2 separate regions of the Homo sapiens genome follow, and region 1 is linked to region 2. Evidence: fine-mapped expression QTL. Tissue or cell type: whole blood. Region 2 holds a variant in brackets; the other region holds the start of a gene. All regions are shown on one strand. Distances are from middle to middle.

Region 1 (8,178 bases), 42 kb after region 2:
TAAATGACACAGTGGTATAGACAGCCTCGGAGCCAGGTGGCCCTACAGTGTTTTCCAGGCCCCTGCACCTAGTCACTGGCTTTGGCTGCCCCCGGAGTGTGAGATAACTTGAGTGAGGCCGCTCCTGTCGGCCTTCCTGAGGAAGGGCTCCACTGTGAGCCCTCAGCAGACAGAAGTCCTGGCAGCTGAGGCCATGAATGTCTGGGTGCTGGCAACAGGGGAATTAGCTACAGCCACCTTAAAGCCATGGGGAGGGGCCTGGGATGAGAACCCAAGGAATGAAGCTGCTCTAAATTCTGGGACAGGAGAGGACGCATAGGAACAGAGGCTGGAGAAAGACTCCACCAGGACAGAGAGGCCAGATGGTTAGGGCTTAAATGCCAGGACAAGGACAGAAGGCTTTATCCATCCTGTGAAGGAGAGTAGTCAAAGGTTTTGAGCAAGATTATTTGGGGGTGATAAGGAGACTGCGAAGCCACAAAGGGGTCCTAATTTTCAAAGTGTCCCCTTGGCCACCTCTCCCATAGACTCCTCTTAACTGGCTGGCTCCGGCCAACTCTCTCTCCCTCTCTCTCTCTCTCTCTCACACACACACACACACACACACACACACACATACACACACACACACACCACTGCCCTCCTCCCCCAAATCGGTTCCCTTCAAATTGTCACTCCCCACAGTGCTGCATTCATGCATCAGTTCTAAATAGCCCCACTGTTCAGCTTTAAAGAGAAGTAATACCAATTCCCATGTTTGCTCAGAGAGCACCATATTTCATCAAACCAGAGGCCATGCCGGCTCAGATTACTGACCGAGACAATGTTCTGTAATCCTAGTTTATTCACATGTCACGGGTATTTTAGCAAAACAGAAATGAATGGCCCCCACCACCCTAGGAAGTAACGGGAGAGTTGGGTCCCCGCCCAGGGGAAGTCATGCTTTCGCTTGCCACGGTTCTCAGAGGAGCCGACTTTGATTTTCTGAGCTTTTCCCAACTTTAAGAAAGAGAATATGGGCTGAGGAGGAGTCACAAAGTGGGTAGTTATTTCCCTGTAAAATGTTAACTCCACAGATGGATTTTGCCAGAGCAAAAATAAAATCTGTCATTGATTATAAAGTCCTTTGTGCTTGTTATTTCACAGATTTATTACACTCTGGCCCCGCGGCCTGGGGAGGCCCTGGGGTTCCTGTCTCTAGCACCCCACAGCTCATGCCCCAACCGGAATAGGGACTCACTTGCATTTCTTTTGTCCTTAAGGGCCAGGAGCTTTGAAAATCTAGATGAAGAGCTGTGAATCTTCCTCCCAATCTTTGGACAAGAACCCGCAGACACAGACAATAACAGCATAACAGTTCCTTGGTAGAGGTCTGTGACTTCCTCATCAAGGAAACATTCCTTTTCTCTTTCCTTTTTTTTTTTTTTTTTTTAGTTGTTGGCACTGTGCACTAAGAAACGAATTTTCTCTGCAGAGTAAGGAACAGCCAGGCTTGAAACTCTCACCAAATCTGCCAGTCTGGGTCTACTTTAAATGTGCTACAACTTCTTTCAAACACACAATAAATGAAAAGACCAATCTGAATGATCAGTGCAATTTAGTTAGTATCATGTCACTTTAAAATCTGGCCAAGAATCCTCATACTATCCTGCTCTTGTCCCCATCTTAGAGTTGAAAAAACTGAGGTCCAGAGAAGGCAAGTAACTTGCTTAACATCACACAGCTAAGTAGCAGTGAAAATAGGGACATGAATCTAGTCCCAATTGACTCCACAGGGTCATGGGAGCACCCTCACTTCCAAGAACATGTTGACATGGGGCCACAGAACCAGCGGGAGAGTACAGGAGCTACAGCAGAGCCTGGAGGCCAGACTTCTCACTTAAAGAAGAGGCTCCTAGGATTCCAGAGAGGCAATGGGGCTGCCCCAGGGTTACAGAGCTAGTTAAAATCACACACTAGCTCTGCTACAAATTAACTGGACGATATCATGAAACAATCGCTTGGGAACATTTATTTGGGGAGAGGTTCTTGATGAAACCAAATGAGCTTGCTTTTCAAAACTACCCAGGGTTTGTTTTACTTCCTTACTTGGGTGCAGAGCTTCATAACTATGGAGTCTCTTCACTCCTTGCTCATGACTTTCTGAGCTGAAGAAAACCCTGCTATCCCAGAGTGCACAGCAAGGAGGCCTAGAGGACTGAGGGCCCCCAAACTACTTCTCACCTGTCTGGAGAGAACACTGTTCACTCCAATCAGCAAGTTCAAGACCTCAGCACCCCTGGCAATTGCAGTGTACGGAACTCCCAGAACCATGATAATTTTGTAGGAAGCTGTCAGAAATCACAGATCCAAGGACTTGTCTCCACAATCTGCCATCTCAACTCTTATTCTGAGCTGCGGCCTGAGCTATTAAAAACAAAACATTCTCGTGGGCAAGCTCCACAATTAGCCTCATTTCCACACTAGAAAAACTGTTCTGCATGAGCTGAAATTGCACAGAGATTGTTTCTTGTCATAGTGATGCTGTTTCAAGGGCCGTGCTGAGAGCCAGCGAGGATGTGACCCAGTGGTAATCTGAATTGCTTCACCAAACACATTTTTATCCCATCATCTCGGCTACATGAAAGGGGGCCACAGTGCTCGTGTTCAAGGCTTTACAGTCCCGCTGTTCAGCAATAAAATGAGGCAAGAAATATTAGCCATCCCTGGCTGATGCCTTAATTCTTTCCCAACAATGTCAGAGAATCTGTACCCTACAGGTTTTAGTGCTGGCTAAAGCCTGACCCTCAGGCTGGCTTGAATGGAGCGGGAATGAGTTAAGGAGAGCCAGAAGGCTTTAATGGACACGGATTCCAAATAGCCCAGCTTGTGCGGGCCTCCTGCGGACTCACCCTCCTTTTCAACAGGCCTCGATTGTGTATGGCCCCAACAGACACAAAACTACCCATGAGCAGAGGTTACCCCCAGCCGGTGCAGGTCAGAGGCATTCTGGGGGGGAAGGGGAGAGGGGGACAGAGGGGAAGTGAGGGGCACATGGAGAAGGAGGGAAATGGGGGTGGGAGTGGGGGAAGGGACCACTGAAAGATGGTCTGGATCATTTATAAGGAGAGATTCACTAAGTCCCAGGCTGAGACCCGATCATCTCACTTCCAGGCAAACCATTTTTGAAAACTGGTTCAGAACAAATGGGAGCTATCCTAATGGGAAGTTGAACACACTGTGATCTAATTTTCAAAACAAATAAAATGCTTTTCTCTGGTTTTCCAAAAGCTACAAGTCTGAGGTTCAGAAGCTCTTAATAGGATGGCCTCTAATTTGACACTGCAAGATTTTAAAAAATTACAAATGGGTCATGTTTTACACACCAACAGAAGCCTTTTCCAGCAATTTTTCAATTATTGCATTGTGAGCCCTCCAAGAAAAGTAACTATTTTGGCTCACAGAGCCCAAAGTTACCAAGTAAAGGGAACAGCCTGTTCACAAGTTTGCAAATAGTCCTTTGAAATGTAGCATAGACTGTATCTGGGAGCTTTCTGGAAGAACATGGGCTTGACGTGGTCCTTTCCTTCCCTCTCAAGGGTCCTTAAACTTTTTAGGTGGGTCTTGGGCCCCCTTCTAAGTCTAGGGAAGCCAGTGGACCCCTTCTTAAAAGAATGTTTTTAAATGCATAAAATAAAATATGCAGAGTTACAAAGGAAGACAATTACGTTAGAATAGAGTTATCACAAATATTTAAAAACAATTTTGTAACATAGTAACTATGTTCCTTTTTGCTAACTAACTAGCAGTAGGCCTAACTGAAGTGGTAATGAGCAAACATGATACTTTGATGAATCCGCAACCACTCTCATGTGATATGAAAATATCTGTGGATGGTGCCTATTGGTGACAAAGTCACTAATACCACTGTGGTTGGTTGCTTGCATTTATAACATTAGTTAATGCTAAGTTTCAGTTAGAGTTAATGAAAATAAAGATGTATTTTTTTCCCCATCAAGTTCATAAGAGCCCTTGAATTCTATCAATGGAGAAGAAATCCTGCTAGAGGCAAGACAAAGATCAGGACCTTCTGCCCCAGGGTTAAGCTGAGGGGCAGTGGGCCAGGGACTCACTACACCCTCACTTCACTGGGAATCCTTCTTAGGAAAGCCACTGCTTTCTCTCTTCCTGCTCTGATGCTTTGGAAATGTTTTTAAAGGCAAATTGAAAGCATGTCTTATTCCTGCAATCCTGAAGGCCACATGTCCAAAGATTAATAAGGACCTTTGATGTGTTTCTTCAACAACTGAAATTACTCTCGTCAAATAAAGGGCTGGTTAATGAGCTAATTCTGAGTTTTAATCACGATCTTGTTCCAGTTCCCTTGGGTGGCATGAGCTTTGGGGTGAGGGCTTTTCTTTACGGAGTCAGCCCAGAGAGGATCTCTGTTCCCCACACTCTCACATTTTGGACATACGCTGACTCCGAGGCAACTGGGCGCACACATATCCCCTCTCTGGTCCTCACAGGGGAGCTGTCATCTTGCAATCACATAGCCATCGCATGCCATTGCAGGGGCAACCCAGCAGGCAGGCCCCCCTCCAACTGCCGCCCAGCCCCCCTCGCAGCCAGGGCAGGCTGCGGCGCCGACACACAGGAGCCGGCTGCGGGGCTGGGTCTCGGGCTCTCGGCTGGGGAGCGGGGAGCGCGCTCGCCCACGCCCCCCACACTCGCGGGCGCACACCCCGGCGCGCGCACGCTGCCACACACGGGCGCACGCACACGGCAGCCGGGCCAGGGACGACCCTGTCAGCTGCAGCCCCAGAGGTCCGGGGCGCGCAGCCGGGTCCCCTCGAGGGCGCAGCCGGCCGCCCCGCCCCGCCCCTCGAAGCAGCCGGGCCGGGCGCGCAGTGGGCTACAAACTTTCGCGGCGCGAGTCCGCCAAGGCAGCGCGCCGACTCGGGCTCGGCTCGGCTCTGCGCTGCTCCGGACGGCTGTGACCGCTGGCCGGGGGCTCGGGCCGCCGGTACCCACGGACCGCGCGCCCGGGTGCCTGCTCCGCTAAGCCCCTCGCCCCGCGCGGACCTCGGTATCCAGCGCCCTGCTGCCCGGGCTCTCCCCGCGCGCCCTACTGCCGCGAGGTCAGTCCGCAGCCTCCGGTGCGCCAGCGCTCGCCTTCCTCCTCCTGGACTTCGGCCCTTTGCCGCCCTCACCACGCCATGGCTCATGTCCCCGCTCGGACCAGCCCGGGACCCGGGCCCCAGCTGCTGCTGCTGCTGCTGCCGTTGTTTCTGCTGTTGCTCCGGGATGTGGCCGGCAGCCACAGGGCCCCCGCCTGGTCCGCACTGCCCGCGGCCGCCGACGGCCTGCAGGGGGACAGGGATCTCCAGCGGCACCCTGGGGACGCGGCCGCCACGTTGGGCCCCAGCGCCCAGGACATGGTCGCTGTCCACATGCACAGGCTCTATGAGAAGTACAGCCGGCAGGGCGCGCGGCCGGGAGGGGGCAACACGGTCCGCAGCTTCAGGGCCAGGCTGGGTAAGTAGAGGGTGCCCCAGGACCCCTTCTCCTCATTCTCCACCTTCCTCACTTTTCTGTCTCCCCACCCGTGCACCTCTACTTTTCCTCTTCTAGCCAACGGGTGAGTGGTTCATTCATTCTTTCACTAATGATTCACTGATCTCTCCATGCCAGGCCCTGAACCTCCAGTGGGGCACCAAGAGTGGCAGCAGGTGGCACAGAGGTCCTGCCCCTGGGGTGCTCCCACATTGCTGGACATACACAGACTACCCCATACACAAGGCTGTAAGCACAGAGAGTGGAAGAGGGGACATAGGCCAGGGGAGTATCCCTGTCATAGGGTCAATTATGTGGGCATTTTACAAATGAGAAGGGCACAGCCAGTGAACATAGGCAGCCCTGCAGAAGCTCCAGGCACTGGGCCCTGTCAGGAAGCAGGAGCCCCTAGCTGGCGTCAGCTATGGTTCCTGTGTCCAGGGAAGCAGAGTGGACTGAGAAGGGCCTTGGCTGCCCGGGATTGAGGACTTCCACGGACTGGCATGAAGCGTTCAGACCACAGGGGTTTAAGGAAAGGCCCAGGGGCTTAGGCAGTGGGAACACTCTGCCTATCTCCGGCCTCTGTCCCACCTTTCCACTTCCTCAGCCCCTTGGATGGAGCTGGGCAGAGGGCACTTGCAAAGGCCCATGCTGCCCTGTTCTGAGAGCACTTCCAGGCTCCTGCCTCAGCAGCCTGCCCACCTTTGCAGGCCCTGGGTAGAGAGGAGGTGCAGCCAGGGCCACAGGGGTGGTGAGAAGACCCTGGTTGTCATGGTGATTACTCCTGGTTGCAGAATAATGTTCCAGAAAATGTGGGTGGGGGTCTCCTGCAGCTCTGCAGAAGATGAGGCCATTCAACAGGAGAAAAATCTGCAGTCTACAGGCTCCCCTCCTGAGGGAGAGGGAAACAAGCCTAGCTGTGGAGCTAGACAGCCTGGGGTCAGATCTGTCACTGGCTGTGTGACTCAAGGTAACATCTGTGGCCTCTCATAACCATGGATTGGGGAGCACCTGCCACAAAGAGGCCCCATGCCCTCCTCCTCCACTTAGCAGACTCACCAGGTCAGTGGCCCTGGGCTCCAGGCCAATTGGATCTAACTCCATCCTCACTCATAACTTTCTTGCACCATGTGGGGTCCATTTCTTGAGGAACGTTATTAAATTAAACCATTTAAGAATCATCTGGCATGAACATGACCTTGGGTAAATCACTAAAGCTAGGTGGACTTGAGTGTATTCATCGATAAAATGGGCAAGGCTTGCCAATATCTCCCCTGTGCAGTTGAAGGGAAGATGAAATGAGGTCATATGTGCAAGCTCAGAGCCCAGCACTGGCCAGATTAAGTGTTGATGTACGGGATTCCCCTGGGAGCACAAATAATCGTGCTAAGTATTGTGTATTCCTGTGGGTTTAAACTTGACCTTGCTTCTCTATTAACTCAATCCTCAAAGCCTTGTAGTTGAGGAAGCAAGGCCAGCAGGGTCACTGCTGCGACACGGGTGAGCCTGCCCACTGAGCCCATCTACTTGCTGCAGCCAGGCATGGAGATGCCTTCTTGTGTCATTCTGTTTTCACAGAAAGGGGGTAGTACAAGTAGCAGTGGAGTTCAGGTTATTAATCTCAAAAAGGACCTGAAGACAGTATCTCAAATCCAGCACTCCCACTTTAAAGATAAGGAAACTGAGACTCAGTGGTTGTTCACAGTGGCAGGGGTTGGCAACTCCCATCTGCCAGGTCATTGCTGTTCTCACTGTCACTCCCCACACCCTGTCATCTCCCTCAGAGCTATGACCAGGGTCTGGGAGGGGTAGGGTGAAACAGACAAGCCTGGGAAATCAGGATTCTGGTAGTCTGGAGTGTCTGACAAATCCCTCTTCTTTGGAAGCCTGAGGCACATTTGGGTGTGAATCCCAGCTGTACCAGCTACCAGGTGTGTGCAGTGGCACAGGTTAGTTTACCTCTCTGAGCATCAGTTTCCTTGTAGTACAGTGAAGAAGTGAGGATTAAATGGGCTAAGCAGGTTTTGTGCTTTGCATACAGTGGGGGCCCAGGCAGGTTGCTTGATCCTCTCCTCCCTTGATTCATCTGAGTGTTTCATGCCAAGCCTCTTGCCTGCCCTCAGATGTGCCTACTTCCTGATCCAGTGACCTGTCTGAGGAGGTATGAGTTTGGGCAGGGACCCTTCTCTCATGGATGATGCCACCCATGTGGGAGGCTTCAGCTCTGGTCCGAGAACATGCCAGTCTCAGCCTGCTCCCCAGTGGTGGGTTTCTGCTGCCTCAGTGGGGCAGCACCTCTTCCTGAACAACAAATGCCTCCATCCCCACAGCCTGCGATACGTAACTATACCTCCCCCGCCACCGGGCAGTGCAGCTCAGCTGCCAAGTGCTGGCTGTGAGCTGGCCTCGTGGGGTCCAAATCCCAATTCTGCGATCTGGGCAAGGGACTGAACTTGTCCATGACTCAGTTTTTTTCACTTCTAAAATGGAGCTAATAGTGCTCCCCTCCTTATAGGATTTTTTTTAATGGAAACTGAGATATGTCAAGTGCTTACACCATTCCTGACACAGGTAAGTGTCAATGGTGTATTAGCTCTTGCTGTTGATATACCAGCCACCCCTTCCTTCCTTCCCTCATTGCTC
Region 2 (8,178 bases):
TCTGGGCAGAGAGCAGCCAGCTGGCTGCCGAGGTGTTTTTCCATGTGGCTGGGGGCCCGCTGCGGCTGCTCTGGCCGGGTGGTGACTCACAGCTGGCAGGACTCTGGCCTGGCGATATTTTGAGATCCGACTCCATGATGGACTGATGTGACAGCTTTGTTCTCTAGGGCCCTTTTGATTTGTGAATCTCCCTTTGTGGTTTGCTAGGGATGCTCAGACCCTGCTGTTTCTGGGCTCCAGCGACCTCTCGCTCAGCTGGGCAGGCGGGGCCGGCTACAGCGGGGGTGGCAGACAGCGAGTGGGAGCAGCAGGGCTCAGTGAGGACTGAGCCACCACCGGCCTGGGCAGCTAGAGCTGCACTTCCAGGCTGTGTTAGACTGACTGGGTGGTCGTGGAAGAATGATAAGTGCCTGCTCAGAGCCAGCTATGCATGGCCAGATCGCAAACCACAGGGCTGCCCTGCTGGGCTTGGGCCTGGGCCCAGAGCTCTCTAGAGCATCTGGGGAGGCATGGGGGTGGACCCGGAGGCTTCTGGAGACCTGCAAGGCAGCCAGCCCTTGGGAAAGAGCACTTGGGGCCTGGGACAGCCGGGCTAGCCGGAAGACTCAGAGCCAGTCAGCAGGGTCCGTGGGACCTCATTTGTGGCACCTGCATTGAAGGCAGGCAGGGATACAGAGGAGAAAGGGCTTCAGAGCCAAAGACAACTAACTGGGTTCAAATCCCAGCTCTGCTCTGGCCGGGGCTGGGGCCGTGGGCAGCTTATTTGACTTCTAATCCCTCACTGGGAAAATAGAATCATAATACCCATCTCTCCAAGCTTTGAAAGGTTTCATGTGAGCATTAACACACACAGATGTGCTCAGAATTCTATCTGCCCAGAAAATATAGTCCTCTACCCCTCTCTAATACACACACACACACGCACACACACCACATTCCTCCAGCTGTCTGCCTCCTTCTGTGGTCCCTGGGGTAGGAATGACTTGTTCTCAGTTTCTTTCTGGCCAGGTGTCCCTCCATACTCAGTTCCATGGATTCTCTTCCCAAGATTGATGTGTTCTCAGATAAAGGTGAGCCAGTTTCCAGCCACCTGCCTGAGGGCAGCTGAATTCACACAGACACACACACACACAGACATACAGACACACACACACACACACACACACACACACTGCTGACTCCCAACACTAGCTCAGCAAATATTACTTAACAGGGCCTTTTTAGGTTGCTGAAAATTTCATGGTCACAGATGTTCCTTCCAGTTAAACAGTAAGCTGCTACTGGGCAAAGCTTCGTACAAAAGAGGGAAAATGCAGACCTCAAACCGAGTTTTGCTAAATGAAAGAAGGAGGAGATGGGAACTAAGGAGCTTTGCAGATCCAGCAAGATGTGACATGACCCAGGGTTTCAGGGTTTCAGCCCCAAGGCCACCACCACTTAGAGGAGATAGCACTAGAGTGTGTCCTTATGATGCAAGATCTGGGTTGGAAGAGGCCTCATGTGTCACCCTTCCCTAGCATCATGTGATGCAGGACATCCCCAGCAGCAGCTAGAGACACTTGCCTCGGGACCCAACCAGGGACGCAAACGCACTCCCCTTTGGGCAGCTCTCAGTGCTAACAAGTCCTCTGACTGGTGAAAACCTGTAGCAACTGAACCTTATTCCGCTGCCTGGGCCACGTAATACAGATCTGCTTCCTGTTCCTCAAGACAAGATGAGGACCCTTTACAGATTGAATGAGTCTTCTCATTCCCAAAATAAACCACGAACCATCAGCCCACTTTTTCTGGCAGGGAAGAGTCCCAAGGGTCCCACTCTCTTCTGCAGTAAAGGACAATGCATCACTTTACAACAGGATAAGACGGCTCTGGGGAGCCTCTAGGGAGCCCGTGCTGAAAACCCTCCCCTGGGCTACCTCACCTCAGCAGCTGGGGTGCTCTATGTGGTCCTGCCAAGGGCCGGGGACTGGCCTGGTGTCTGGGAGCCTTGTCTTCACTGCCCAATCATGGCGGCTTTGATCCCATGACTCTCAGCTTTTCCATCAGAATTCAGAGGGCAATAATAGCAACTGCTTGCTTGTAAAGTGCTTGGAGCTCAGAGGAGAAAAGGTGTCAGACAAGTGTAAAATGTTACTACTGGCACAGGCCAGAGGATGGAATGGAAAATCCCAGCAGAAATTGGGAACTCAGAGGAAGCCATTTGTCAGCTCCTCTGAACAAATGGATACAGGAAAAGGGGCCTTCCTCTGGCAGCCAGGCACAGCCCAGGTCAGCTGGAGGGGCTGGAGGAGATGCAGGTGAACATGAACTGTCCTGCCTTCTGACATCAACTACTGATTTAGCAGCCATGCCTTCCACCTCAAGACCAGCTGTCCATTGCACACCCTAGGCAGGGCTGCCAGCGGATGAGCCCAGGTACCCAGAGCTCCAAGCAGTCAGCTCAGCCCTCAGAAGCCTCCTGGAGAAGAGGACTGCAGGAACTAACCCACTGTAGCAGCCATCTGGAAGAACCAGCCCAGTTCTCAAACAAGGGTGCACCAGGCAGAAGAGCCAGTCAGCATGTAGCCGTGAAGACTGGGAAGGGCAGAGGGAAGAGGCACGAAGCACCTAGATGACGCGATGAACTAAGGAAAACTTTTAAAGCACTCTAATTGCTGTTCTCAGAAATTCAGGAAACGTATACATTCATTAAAGAATCTTCTGGCAATACATCTTCTTAGACATTATAAGTGTGACCCACCAATTCCTGTCTTCAAAGTGATCATCAGTAAATGAACTGAAAGATAAAGTCAAGGAAATCTGTCAGAACGTAGGGTAAGAAGACAAGGAGAAAGAACTTCAGATTAAAGTGACTCACATATCTTGTTAGGATTAATGAAAAAATAAAACCATCTAACATTTTAAAACATGAAGAATAAAGAGAAAATCAGAAACATGAGACAGAAAACATCATCACCTACTAATAAGTAAGACTGGCATCTCATTAACGAAACTTACTGTGACTACATTGTTGAAATTCCAAAACCTAGAATTTGACAGTCTCACAATCACAGTGGGAGATTTTAGCACCTACTGTAACTTCATCACACCTATGTGGTTCAACTTTTATGAAACCAAGTTGTGAGTTGTTTTCAGGTTACCATGGGCCCCCAGATTGAAGGTGATGTAATCTGAGCGTGCTCAGGCGAACCAAATGGACAGCCACAGGAGGAACCTCAGGGCTGGGACTGAGAAATTGGGACTGAACTGAGAAGCAGACACTGCCTGGCAGGAGCCAGGATCCAATCAGAGGAAGCTCTGGTATCACCCCATGGCAGGATCCAGTAAGATCATGCCTCCTGGCACCACCTCATTGCAAGATCCAATCAGATCACACCTCATTACCCTATGCTTATAAAGCCTGACCCAAACCCCTGCTCGAGGAGACAGGTTTGAGAGTTTTCTCTTGCCTTCTTGCCCATTAAGCAGCTTTATTGCTGTTTTTCTTTTCTCAAAAGCTGGTGCCATGGCATTGGCCTCTATGTGAATTGGACACCAAGCCCATTGATCGCTTGGTAACAATACCATGTTCCTAGATGGGAGGACTTAATATTATTAGGATACCAATTCCCCCCAAATGAACACAAATATTAGATTTTTCTCCTTGACTCTTGACAGTGAAAGCTTGCGTATGAACAATTAAAGACTCCCACTGAGGATTCTGAATCTGAAACTCATACTGCAAAGAATCAGGGGATACTTTAGAATTCACTCTAGTTATGGTGATGGTGATGGTGGAGATGCCAGAGGAGGGGATGGAGGGGAAGTGGCGGGAGGTGCTGGTGTTATGGGGGTGGTGGTGGAGGAGCAGGTGGTGGAGGTGATGGTAGGATGGCAGCACCCAGCACCCAGAGTCTAGTGTAGACAATAGCAGCAGAATCAGAACAGCCTCTTGGCAGCAAGCGTCCAGGGCAATGTCTCCAGTGGCACCATTTGGCTTGTTTTTGGCTCTCTGGCATCCCTCTATCCTGGCCTTTTGTCCAAGGGTTGCTTCTAAACACTACAATCTCTTACTAAGACATCCGTTATCCTTCTAAGTCTCTTTGCTGCCTATGTTTAATAAAGTAAGTTTCTATTGCTTACAACCAAGAACTCTGGGACAATGAGTCTTCCAATCTTGAGTAAAGGAAGTATTTTGTAAGCAAGGCAGGAAACCAGAAATATTGTTTTAAAAGCAGAAGACTGACTAATTTAACCACAAAACTTGAAACAACTCAATAGGAAAAGTGAAAG[C/G]GCCAAGTTCTTAAGGGTCACAGCACAGAAGAAAGAGGAAGGCTGGTAAACATAGAATAAGATGCTCATTCTCACAAATCTTCAGATGGAAAAAATGAAATTCCATTTTTCCCTTTAGGTTAGCACAAAAATACATAAATGATACATAATATCCAAGGTGTGACTGGGTGGGAAAATGGGGTCTCTTACAAAGCACTGGACAATGCAAAGAGGTGACATTTTCAGCTGAATTGAAGGGTATCTCCCAGCATTCGAGGTGAGAGTTTTCTCTACTCAAAAATGTTATTTCTCAGTATTTATCTTAATAGAAATACTTGCACAAAAGCATGAAAATATTAATAGCTGACTTATTTATAGCAGCCCCAAAGTGTAGGCAATCTAAATAGTATCAACAGGGGATAATATTTACTTCCAAAATAACCAAAATATGGAACAAAACAAAATATGGAAAACTGAGGAGGAAGTAAAAAGTGTTTAATGGAACTATATTTACTGATCTAAAAGGCTCCTTGGTTTGGTTTATTCTTTTTTTTTTTTTTTTTGAGTTAGGATCTCACTCTGGTGCCCAGGCTGGAGTGCAGTGCCATGATCTCGGCTCACTATAAACTCTGCCTCCTGGGCTCAAGTGATCCTCTCACCTCAGCCTCCCCAGTAGCTGGGACCACAGGCATGTCCACCCAGCCAAGCTAATTTTTGTAGAGATGGGGTCTTGCTATGTTACCCAGGCTGGTCTCAAACTCCTGGGCTCAAGCGATCCTCCCACCTTGGCCTCCCAAAATTCTGGGATTACAGGTATGCACCACCTCGCCCGGCTGGTTTATTCCTTAGTGAAAAGGTGATTGCAAAGCACTCTATATGGTATGATTCAATTTCTCTTTTAAATTTGTTTGAATTGCAAGGAGGTGGGTACGTTCAAGTTAGACTTTATATACCTCTGTAACAAGCAATATTGTAAAACCAGCATGTTTTGCTTTTCCAGTTTCTAAGCAAAACTAAAAGTAAAAAGGAATTGGAGTCCATGGGATACACCTTTCATGGTAAATTAGTAGCAGTGTTTCTCGTTTGTCCTGAATCCTTGTGAACCTGCTGGGGGTCCTAGCTAGTCTTGGTGTAGGCTGGACCTTGGGCTGTGCCCTATGCCTTCCTGCTAGGGGAGTTGAAGAAGGACAGGAGGAGGCATGAAACATGCCTGGTTTCATCCCATGGCTTCAGGAAAATCACTCCAGAGCCTAGATCAAGTTAATAGGAGAAACACTGCAAAGAGTAATATAGCTACCTATATTACGGACAGATGAAAAGGTATTTATTTGACCCAGTAAGTACAATCTACCATGCCTGCGGCACATCCTGAAGGAATATTACTGGGGGCCTGACTGCATGACTGCTCTTTGATTTATGGAGCCAAAGTGAATGAAAGGCAGGGTCAATACAACTGCCTTTCGGCTCCACTTTCCATTCCATTTCATAGAGCAGGTGAAAAGATATGCCTGCCTATAACAGGACTGGGTGAAACTCAGGAACCTCCAATGGAACATTTGCATGTCTGTGTCAGTGGGCATTTCTGTCATCCAAGAGGGGACTTCCATCTGAGGTGGCTTTTGAGGCAGGAGCATAGCTCCGTCAGGAGGAGGCCTGAGCTAAATGCACATTGTCCATGCTGGGAGCTTTCTGGGCAGGGCTCAGGGGGACGGGTTGAGGGGGCTTGTCTAGGAGCTGGATTTCTGAAACGTGATACATGGCTCCTGTTTCCAGTGGATCAGCCTGCCTTTCAGAACCTACAGGAGACTGTACTTCCAAGAAACAAGTGCTTTCCTGAGGGACTAATCTGCCTGCCCCCCACTTGAGTGCTGACACCAAGGCTGAAGGCAAATCCCGGCTGGAAGACGAGGATGTAGTGGGCTTGGGTGTGAGACAGATTTGGTTTCAAACCATAACTTTGGGAAAGTCACTTCCCTGAACCTTGTTTTCTTCCTCTATAAAATGGGCACAATATTATCTTCTTCATGGAGCTGCTCTACAGATTCAGTGAAATAATGGATTTGTTTCCCAGGGCTGTTGTAAGACAGCACCACAAACTGGGTGGCTTAGACAACAGACGTTTATTGTAGCACAATTGTGGGGGCTGGAAGTTTGAGATTAAGGTGCTGGTAAGTTTTGTTCCTCCTGAGGGCTGTGAGAGAGAATATGTTCCAAGATTTTCTCTGAGTTTCTGGTGGTTGATTTCAATGTTTAGTATTCCTAGGCTTGTAGAAGCTTCACCTGGATCTCTGCCTTTATCTTCACATGTTATTTTCCTTCTATGTTTGTCTGTGTCCAAATTTCCCCTTTTTATAAGGACTCCAGTCATATTGGATTATCAGCCTACCTTAATGACCTGTAATGACCCTATTTCCAAATAACGTCCCATTCTGAGGTAGTTAGGGTTAGGACTTCAACATATGAGTGAGGGGAGGCACAGTTTAACCCAGAGCAAGTGGCACATGTAAAGTGACTGGTGTAACATAGCTCCTGAATGAATAGTAGCTCTCTTTGTCCACCAAGTCCCCCCTTGCCAGCATCTAGACGGAAAGAGGCAATGAAGGTGGAAGAGGGAAGCCACATATGTCTCAGTGGGTTCTTTAGGTTGGGAGTCACCCACCCCACACAGCTTCTGCCCAGTCTCTCCCACTCCAAGAGCCCATCCATCAGTTCGTTTGGCCAGCAGGCAGCAGCATTTCCCCAGAGCCCCAGGAGCTCTTGTCTGCTGTCGTTTGCTGATAAGCCAATGCTTGCTGACGCGTGTCCTGATTTCAGAGTGTGTCTGCCTCTCTCCTCATCCTGTGGCCATGCTATGGTAGCTGAGAGCAGGGATCTGCCACTCCATCGCTGTGCACCTTTGACCCAGCTGGGGTCTCACAGAGATAGTCTCTAGTGAAGGTTTGAAGGATGTAGAAAAGAAGGAACAGCAGCTTCAATAACAAGATTGTCATAAATTTGTTTAATATAATCGCTGCCTCAGCATCCATTTTTATGCCTGACATAAGCTGTTTGGAACTCAGTTGTACCCAGTCGCCTTTAGACTCAGAACTTCCTCTCCCCGTGTGGCTGTTCCTCATCCCACTGACCCAAAATCCAATACCTGACCATAATAACACCAAATGGTCATGCCAGAGTCAGGAAAATAAGTCCCCACTTCAAGAGTGTTTTCTTTAAACCAGTCAGTCCACAACCCCAAAGGAAAGCCTAAGGATAATGCCCATGAGTCTTAATAAAAGCAGAGTCCCACAAGTGTTCTCTCTTCCTCACCCACTGGGTAAGCTGCCTGCCACCTCCTGACTTCCTGTAGGCCTCTAGTGTGCAACCATCTGCTGTGAGGCCTGTGAGTGAAATGTTTTCCCTGTTTCATGCATTCTGGTTTCACTTCTTCACTGTGTCTAACCTGACACACACACCTGAACCTAATTTCCCCCATCAGAGCTCCACTAGAGAGTGGCTGTCTGGGCTCACGGCCACTCTCAAGAGACACCACAAGACCCAGTGGAAAGAAACTAGCAATACAAATCACAACAAAAGGGGGACCTGTTCAAATGCCTGCCTCCGCACCCCGCTCCCGCCCCACCCCCACCCTGCCCCCCAGCCATCTCGCTCTAGAAATCCCCCACCATGTGCAAAGAGATCCTGTCTCTCTGGGCATCAGCATAGAGGACCGCTGGCCAAGCCACCAAGCACTTGGCTCACATAATAAACCAAAACCTGTTAAAGCTCCGTGCTACTTGAAAAGGACAAAAAGACAAATGTATGTAGAACAGGGTCCAGGCTGACCTCAGTTCCCATGGGAGATAGCAACATGCCATCAGCAACTGTTCCCAAGCAAAGCAGCAGGCACTGGCCATAGGAGACAGCCTGGGCTCAGAAGGCTGTGGGGGA

What was found. PIP is the estimated chance that this variant, and not a neighbour inherited with it, causes the effect.
Region 1: GDF10 starts here. The variant in region 2 is fine-mapped to the expression of GDF10 in whole blood (TOPMed, PIP above 0.99). The same link has a PIP of 0.9 or more in blood mononuclear cells.

Annotation. Positions count from the first base shown.
Region 1 is chr10:47,295,454-47,303,631 of GRCh38, forward strand. GDF10 (growth differentiation factor 10) reads left to right here and starts at 4,744. Exons shown (of 3, transcript NM_004962.5): 1 at 4,744-5,517. The coding sequence starts at 5,199.
Region 2 is chr10:47,253,700-47,261,877 of GRCh38, forward strand. No RefSeq gene overlaps it. Among named protein-coding and RNA genes, the nearest start is that of GDF10, 42 kb to the right of the region's middle. RefSeq lists a silencer at 7,836-7,885. The variant C/G (reference allele first, on the strand shown) is at 4,273.